Linked DNA regions of Homo sapiens: regions 2 and 3 are each linked to region 1. The links come from fine-mapping of genetic effects on gene expression. A gene starts in region 1. Each other region holds a variant in brackets. All regions are shown on one strand. Distances are between the middles of the regions. Region 1 holds the start of PARG (poly(ADP-ribose) glycohydrolase). Region 2 has its middle 33 kb from the start of AGAP6. Region 3 overlaps PARG (poly(ADP-ribose) glycohydrolase).

Evidence for each region. PIP is the estimated chance that this variant, and not a neighbour inherited with it, causes the effect.
Region 2: its variant is fine-mapped to the expression of PARG in monocytes (Schmiedel 2018, PIP 0.95).
Region 3: its variant is fine-mapped to the expression of PARG in whole blood (INTERVAL, PIP above 0.99).

What each region holds. Positions count from the first base shown.
Region 1 is chr10:49,940,538-49,943,298 of GRCh38, forward strand. It overlaps PARG (poly(ADP-ribose) glycohydrolase), which reads right to left and starts at 1,490. Exons shown (of 18, transcript NM_003631.5): 1 at 972-1,490. The coding sequence starts at 1,188. TIMM23B (translocase of inner mitochondrial membrane 23 homolog B) reads left to right here and starts at 1,516. Exons shown (of 7, transcript NM_001290117.2): 1 at 1,516-1,763. The coding sequence starts at 1,658. It overlaps TIMM23B-AGAP6 (TIMM23B-AGAP6 readthrough (NMD candidate)), which reads left to right and starts at 1,516. Exons shown (of 17, transcript NR_158661.1): 1 at 1,516-1,763; 2 at 2,698-2,761. RefSeq lists an enhancer at 1,331-1,400.
Region 2 is chr10:50,020,036-50,022,796 of GRCh38, forward strand. It overlaps the pseudogene FAM21EP. Among named protein-coding and RNA genes, the nearest start is that of AGAP6, 33 kb to the left of the region's middle. The variant G/C (reference allele first, on the strand shown) is at 1,489.
Region 3 is chr10:49,907,194-49,909,954 of GRCh38, forward strand. All of the region lies in intron 7 of PARG (poly(ADP-ribose) glycohydrolase), which reads right to left. It also overlaps the pseudogene RPL35AP24. Among named protein-coding and RNA genes, the nearest start is that of PARG, 33 kb to the right of the region's middle. The variant T/G (reference allele first, on the strand shown) is at 1,323.

The sequences.
Region 1 (2,761 bases):
GCGGAGTTTCGCTCTTGTTGCCCAGGCTGGAGTGCAATGGTGCCCTCTCGGCTCACTGCAACCTCCGCCTCCCGGATGCCAGCGATTCTCCTGCCTCACCTGCCTCAGCCTCCCGAGTAGCTGGGATTACAGTTGCCCGCCACCACGCTAGGCTAATTTTTTGTATTTTTAGCAGAGACGGGGTTTCACCATATTGGTAAGGCTGGTCTTGAGCTCCTGACCTCAGGTGATCCACCCGCCCCAGCCTCCCAAAGCTCAGGGATTACAGGCAAAACCACCGCGCCCGGCCTCGGTTGCACTCCTGAAACACTTCTTACTTCCTCTTCATCTAACTCCTACTCATTCTACAGTCCTCAGAATAAGCATCTCATCTTCTGGAGGACTATTTTCGATTCCATAAATTCAGTTAGGTAAAACAATCTGTCATTCATCTATCAGAACATCCATTACCTTTTATTATATTAACTTTTGCTATCGTCTATCTCTCCAGATAGATTTTAAGGTATGAAGGCAGAGGCCAAGTTTCTCTCGTTCAACACTGTATACCAGGGACGGGTACAATGCCAGCTTAAACTAATAGCTCTGCACCCTGGGACCCAGAATCTGAACAAGTGAAGTTGTTTTCTTCCTATCTAGAGGCTGAAGCGCCCTACTGTTTTACATACACAATTAGATCTCCTTGACGACTAAGGCAATTTCTCAATCAAACCTGAAGAAGCAAACAGGTGGTGGAGTCTCCTGCCATTTTCCGCCCTGTGAGTGACTGCTCATCAGAGTTTCTCACATCAATCGCACTGGGAAAAATGCGGCCCCATTCACCCACTAGTGGCTTTGGTAGCTCAGCAAGTGGACCTCAAGAGTGACGATGCACACAAGACCAGAAAGGAGTGACTGGAGCCCCTGGGTCCTCAGACTGAGACCAGAAGGTTCGGGCCGAGGCGAAGGACAAAGATTTTTATTTTCCCACGTACCAAGCGAGGTGGCGCTGCCTCTGTGCTGTCCCGCCCGCCCTGGGACGCAGGCTGGCGAGGACGGTGGGACCCTGAACTGCACGTGAGCGTCCTTGGGGTCGAGGACGCGCCTCTGCCTGCTGGGAAAGCTCCGGGCGTCCGAAGCAGCCGGCGAAGTTGTAGCGGCGCCCCAGCGGGGTCGCTTGGTGCAGGGTTCACAGCCGGGGCCCGCATTCATGCTGGGACCAGCAGCGCACTGTCCCCGGGCCGGCCCGGGCGGAGAGCCTCATTCACTAACCCTGAGAGAGATGGACTGCGCCTCCTTCTCAGCGCCTGCCTGCACCATTCCCTCTCTGCCGCTGCCTGCTTCTGCAATTGCTGATCCGCCGGCCTCCCAAGTCAGGCCGTAAACACTCGCCTGCCTTCCCTCTTCCACTGGCACCCCACCTGCCTCAATGCGCCGCTTTGATTCGGGATTCGTTCACTTTCCCACCACCGGAAAGCTGCCGTCAGGCGCTTCCGGCTTCCGGGGCGCACACTGCCGCAAAGCGGAAGTGTGGCGCTTAACGGGAACCGGCGCCCGGAATGTCAGCGTGTGAAGTAGGCGCTGGCAACGCGGGGTTACCCGCTGTTATTGAGGAGTAACGGCCCAGCGGACCACCCAGGCTTGAGGCAGCGGCGGGAACCACTCGGTTTGCTGCGATACCATGGAAGGAGGCGGGGGAAGCGGCGACAAAACCACAGGGGTATTGGCCGGCTTTTTCGGAGCCGGCGAAGCAGGTTACTCGCACGCGGATTTGGCTGGCGTCCCGCGTAAGTATGGGGCCTAGCTTGCGATTATTTCTGACTGGTTCTTGCGTTTACACTAAAGTTGCGCGTCCCATGTTTTATGTTGTTGGTTTTTTTTTCCTTGCTGGCGTTTACAAGCTTAAGTACCAGTGGTGGGGTTAGTGTATCTGCATGGCTGCTCTTTCAAGATAGAAAGGCCTAAAAAAGGGCCACGGATCTCCTGGGGAAGCTGTCCGTGATTGACCTGGACTCGCGAGATGATGCATGTTTTCTTAGGTTTATATCCAAGCCTCGTACGTTTTGTGTGTGGTGGGCCGTGTGATTGACCCTTAAGAGTAGAGCCCAGCTTTGGGAGTAAATGTATTCCAAATAGCAAGCCCGTAGTTAACTTTTTAGTACACAGTGACATATTCTGAGCCTCCAAGTAGCCGTAAGGGCAGAATATTCAGTAATATTGCATGTAAGTGAGAAATAAATATGACTTGGGACAGGCTAGGAAACCTTCTTTAGGAGCTAGGAAGTAAGCTGAACTTTAAAGGTGATATATAGACATGAAGAAAGAAGCCAGGTAAGAATTATAGGAAAGGAAATAGGCAACATCAAGGTATACAGAGGCATAAATATCTTGCCTTTGCCTCTCCTCGGTCTTGTGAATATGTTTTCCAGAACTTTGGTACTTTGTAACTGTGGTTGTTCAACTAGATAAATAGAACTTGGACCTAAAGATAGGCAGTTGGTCGTGGATAAAGCCTTTACGAAAGTACTTTCTTTTTAGAGAATCCTTGTAATATTTCTCTAGGTATTTTATACTAAGGAACAACAACAACGAAATATGTTCAGACTGACTCTAGTGCAAAAAAATATAAAAGACCTTTCATTTCCCTGGTGTCACCTTTGTCAAAAAACTGAATCTACAACACATGGTGTTTTGTTTCGTTTTTTTTTTGTTTGTTTTTAGAGTCAGGACCTCGTTCTGTCACCCATGTTGGGGTGCGGTGGCATGATTATAGTTCACTGAAGCC
Region 2 (2,761 bases), 79 kb after region 1:
GCTCTGCAGAGCCAGGGTCTCCAGGAATGGGGAGGGCAGCCACCCTCACTCCACTTGTGTTTGTGACCCAAAGGACTGCCCGGGTCTCCAGGAATGGGGAGGGCAGCCACCCTCACTCCACTTGTGTTTGTGACCCAAAGGACTGCCCAGGTCTCCAGGCCCGTAGAACCCCCAAACCCCTGACTGGGCCACACTGGGGACCTTGAGCAGCAGACTTAGATTCTTAGGTCTTGTCTCCGGGTACATATCAGTGCCCAGGCTTGGGAAGCTTGGGTCTCAGGGGGGTTGGCACTCAGGCCCTCTGCCTCAAGGAAGGGGCATGTCCAGATCTCTCCTGTCCAGCCTCAGCCCTGCTCCCTGCCCCTATCCTTCACGGGGTCCCTAGGACAGGGTTACAGAAGTCTCATGCTGTCAGGCGATGCTGCCACCCCAGTGCCGGGGTGGCTCCACCCAGCCCCTTTCCTGCTACCGTCCTCACTGACTCACCTGTCCAGCCTCCTACTGGGCTGGGGCGAGGGCTTGTTGCCCCAGAGCCCAGACGAGCACCAGAGGCATCTCTAAAGGCACATTGGGCCAGTCCTCAGCATCCTAGTTGGCCACCATCTGCTGCCACATGATGCTGGGAGGCCTGGGGAAGCTGGCTGCCGAGGGCCTGGCCCACCGCACCGAGAAGGCCACCGAGGGAGCCAGTGAGGACCCGGGGCTCCTTTCTACCTGGGCTGGGGGGATCTGGGGCAGACTGGGTCCATTGGAGGTGGATGTTAGTAGGCAGGCGAGGACCTGCGGGGAGGCCTTGGCCCCTCAGGAACCCTGGAACCCTGGCTTCCAGCCCCACCAGGTCAGCACGGAGTTGAGGGTTGGAGAGCTGGGGAGGTCTCCTGGGGGCAGGGCATGAGTCCTGGTGCTGGGTGAACACTGGCAGCTTGGACCCTTCCCTCTGGAAATCTGGGGAGCCTTTCTTATCAAAACAGCCTATTCTGAATAACCTATGCAGGAAAAGGAAGATGGATTTTTATTTTTACCACAACTTTAAAGCTTCAAAGATTTCTTAAGAAATCACCCAAATCTGATCTGTTCAAAGTCAAAAAGGACATTTTCAATTTCATCCAAGTCCCCTAAAGCATGTTTATTTTTATTTTTATTTTTATTTGAGACGGAGTCTTTCTGTGTCCCCCAAGCTGGAGTGTACTGGTGCGATCTCGGCTCACTCTAACCTCTGCCTCCTGGGTTCAAGTGATTCTTGTGTCTCAGCCTCCCAAGTGGCTGGGATTACAGGCGCCCACCACCATGCCCGGCTAATTTTTGTATTTTAAGCAGAGACAGGGTTTCGCCATGTTGGCCAGGCTGGTCTCAAACTCCTGACCTCAAGTGATCCGTTCCTCTTGGCCTCCCAAAGTGCTGGCATGACAGGCGTGAGCCACTGCGCCCGGTCCTGAAACAAAAAAATTGTTTTGTATTCAGAGGTCAGCAGCTGTGTGTGTGTGTGGG[G/C]GGGGGGGGGGCCAAGCAAGGCCCCACCCATGGATCATCGTGTGAAAAACAGTCTTGCCTGAGTTTGTGTCCTCACTCTAAATGGCAGCAGACGTGTATTTTCTTTTTGACTCTGCAGCTGGTGTGGACCACCTGCTTTAACCTTTCACTAGCCTCTGAGTTTTCTATGATTCCTGTTGGGAGAAAAGCTGAGTGTTGGGAGAGCAGTGGGCCTGCTCTGAGCCCTCTCCCTGGACTGGGGGAGCAGTGGGCCTGCTCTGAGCCCCTCACCCTGAGCTGCAGGGGCAGTGGGCCTGCTCTATGCCCTCACCCTGGACTTTGGGGCCAGTGGACCTGCTCTGAGCCTTCACCCTGAACTCGGGGGCAGTGGGCTTGCTCTGAGCCCTCACCCTGGACTGTGAGGCCAGTGGACCTGCTCTGAGCCCTCACCCTGGACTCGGGGGCAGCGGGCCTGCTCTAAGCCCTCACCTTGAACATTCAAGATTTAAGAAAGTTTGCCAGCAACAGATTCTGTTGAAAAGAACTACTTAAGAAGTCCTCCTGCAAGAAATGACATGAATCCAGAGGAAGAAGCAGTGTGAAAAAAGTAACAATTCTCTAAGTAATCAGCCAATGCTATTATTTAAGACTAAAGTATTGATTGCCATGGATGCTTAAAATAACAATTTAGAATTAGAATTCTGGATTATATCAACAGGAGAGTTGGGGAAAAGGAAAACAGCGGGAGGAAGTGAACACTCATCTTGTTTGGGAAGAGTCTATATGTACTGTTTACCTTTAGATTTTGTTAGGCAACATTATATATGGATATAAAAAATTAAAAGTATTAGAAAAATAACAATGAAATGTATAAATTTCAAACCAGTAAAGGAAATAAGATGGAACAAAGAAATTTCAATCAACCCAACAGAAAGCAAGAACAGGGACAAAAAGAGAAACAGCATAATCAATAGAAAACACAAAGATAGGCCGGGCATGGTGGCTCACGCCTATAATCCCAGCACTTTGGGAGGCTGAGGAGGGTGGATCACTTGAGGTCAGGAGTTCAAGACCAGCCTGGCCAACATGGTGAAACCCTGTCTCTACTAAAAGTACAAAAATTAGCCGGGCTTCTTGGTGGGCACCTGTAATCCCAGCTACTTTGGAGGCTGAGGCAGGAGAATCACTTGAACTTGGGAGTCGGAGGTTGCAGTGAGCTGAGATCATGCCATTGTACTCCAGCCTGGGTGACAGGGCAAGGCTGTCTCAAAAAACCAAACCAAAACAAAATAAC
Region 3 (2,761 bases), 33 kb before region 1:
CAAAGAGCATTTGTGGTGACAAGGCACTATGTCACTCAGCTTACTAAAAACTTCATTAACACACTATAAAGAAAAATTATTTAGCCAGCTTAGAATCTGACAGACTCTTGTAGTAAATCATTACCTGTCATTATCATCACAATAAATCGAGGATGAGTATTTTTCTCTACTAGTACTAATAGTAAAATAAGGAGAAAGACCATTGGCTTAGTCTTTGGTAAACCACAGCACTAACAGCACCCCCTCATATAAAAGGACCAATGGACCTATTTAGTCTTTGATGAGCAAGTTTACCGCTTGTTTAGATAGGCTACACACTGAAACAATATATAAATTTGAAAAACAGATCTAACGTTCTGTTTTTATTTACTCATTATTTTTACCTTCAGATAAAAATACTACAATAGTCCTTCCAGGGTTAAATATGAAATGTTACATGTAGATAAGTGTTCAAAGCATACTCAAAAGGACTATAGAATTTATTTTTATGAGTAGGAACATAAGAAGAATAAATGCAAATTAACAGAAATTATAAATCAAGGCATCATGTTTAACTGTGTTAATAAAATACAAACAAAACAAAACAAAACCCAAAACACTTCAGAGCTAGCTGATAGAGATATAAATCATGGGCAAGATTAAAACACAGAATTATCTTCACTCCTCTAACAGTAGATTTTTGGATAATGAAATCAACACCACAGCAACATTTAAAAGGAATAACTTCTACTGCTATTTGACCCAAATGAAGGGTTAGAGTTATAGGACAAACTAAGTACTAGCTTAATTTCATTATTAGAATATAAGAGAAAGTCTACTGAATGAATTTTCACTTTTCAGTATCTATAACTTCTAACCTCTTTGTCCACCACATAAATAAATACAATCCAGATAGTGTTTTGCAAACACAAAATAACAACTCTAACTTCATCAGTGATCTAGTGCATAGAGGGCTCAACTAAGACTGATATTCCATGGTAACTCATCAAGTTTATAAAAGCAAAGTGCCTAGTTCCAATTGGAGTAATCTGTCCTTTGGGATATGCACTATTTAGAAATCATAAATCATAAATATGAGACCATCAACATATGTCCCAATTCAAAAGCACTCATTAACCAAACCAGGGAGAGAAATTCCACATATTCCATACAAATATAAAAGTCACAATTGATCTGTTTCAATATTTTAGTGATTCTGATTAGTTCCCTTTTGGCTCCTATAGTTCTCATGAATTAAATTGAGCTGTAAAGTAATGCAGACCTTATGATTCCAGAGACTGTGAGTCACCAAGGGAAGAGGTCCAAAAAGGTTAAATTTCCAC[T/G]GAACTCCAAATCAGAGGTTCGAAAGCTAGAGAGATAAAGACATTAGCTGTAGTCTTATGAAACATTTAAGGCTGCTTTCATTTGATTAGGAGTTTGGTACAGGCTCTTTGTGACAAATATAACAAAGATACTTGATATTTTTTAAGCTTTGAAGAAAATCCCAGAAAACAGATTATCTACGAAGAATGTTAAATCAAGCTAAGTAATAATGTGTTTATATACATTCAGAAACTTACTTCAGTGTTATCAAAAAACCAAACCAAAACAAAACAAAAAATGACCACCAAAAGGCTATCATGGAAGGAGGCCACATTCCTTCAGTTACTGAATAACGAAATCTGTTGTGATTTAAAACAGCAGTTATAACAATTTACCGCCTTAGGTCAGCTTTTCCCAAACTATTCTAAAAAGCACTAACCCTCCATGAAATGTTTATAGACAGTTTATAGGATAAAGGGGTGGGGATAGGAGGAATGAAGAGAGAAGAAAAATCCTCTAACAATATTTTTGTTCTAAAATTTTTAATACACAAAAATACTGAGTATATTTGATACAGTTAAAATTACCATGAGATAAGCTACTCATAATAGCATGCCACACCTCAGAAAGCCAGGATGTCCACAGTATACCACATATGCATGAATGCATTGATGCTCAAGTGATGCATAAACATACAACTATTGTGTTTTACGTTATTGAATCATAGCTGATTTGTGCTGTGATTTTTGCCTAATAATTTCAACATATATTTTAACTTTTTATTATATAATAAAGGCATAAATCAAAACTTAATTTCTTCCAGCCATTACTTTGTGTATGTGAAATAACTTTTTGTAATCTATTTTAATACAAGTTTATGTTCTTTTTTCTGAGTTTCTACTGATGCTCTGTCAATACATTATCATTTTTAAAGTTTTCCATAATCACAAGTTCAAAAACTGTTATTTTAGCTAAACACAGGTATAATAATACATGCCTCAATTTTGGAGACAATGAATTATGTTGTACCTGTTTTTAAAATTTTAAATGGCCTTTCTCTTTCTGCCAACTTGGAGCCTGTGGAGGCCTGCTGGGAACAGGAATACTAAAAGGAAGTATGTCTGGAAGGCTGTGGTCCAAGGCCATTTTTGCTGAGCATAAGTGGGGTCTCCAGAACCAAAGACAGCACACAGCTCTTTTTAAAATAGAAGGTGCTTATGCTCAAAATGAAACAGAATTCTGTTCGGGCATAAGATGTACTTATATATACAAAACAAAGAACAACAAAGTGACTCCTGGTGGCAAACCAAACAAAACCAGAGTAATCTAGGGAAAGGTAACTTGGTCCCAGGGAAATAGTGGCATGGTTCATGCCAAATTCTGAAGCAATCTTCCTGCTAAGGCCACTGGACACAGAATCTGTGTGACGCTGTACCCCTCAAGCATTTAAATTAATGAA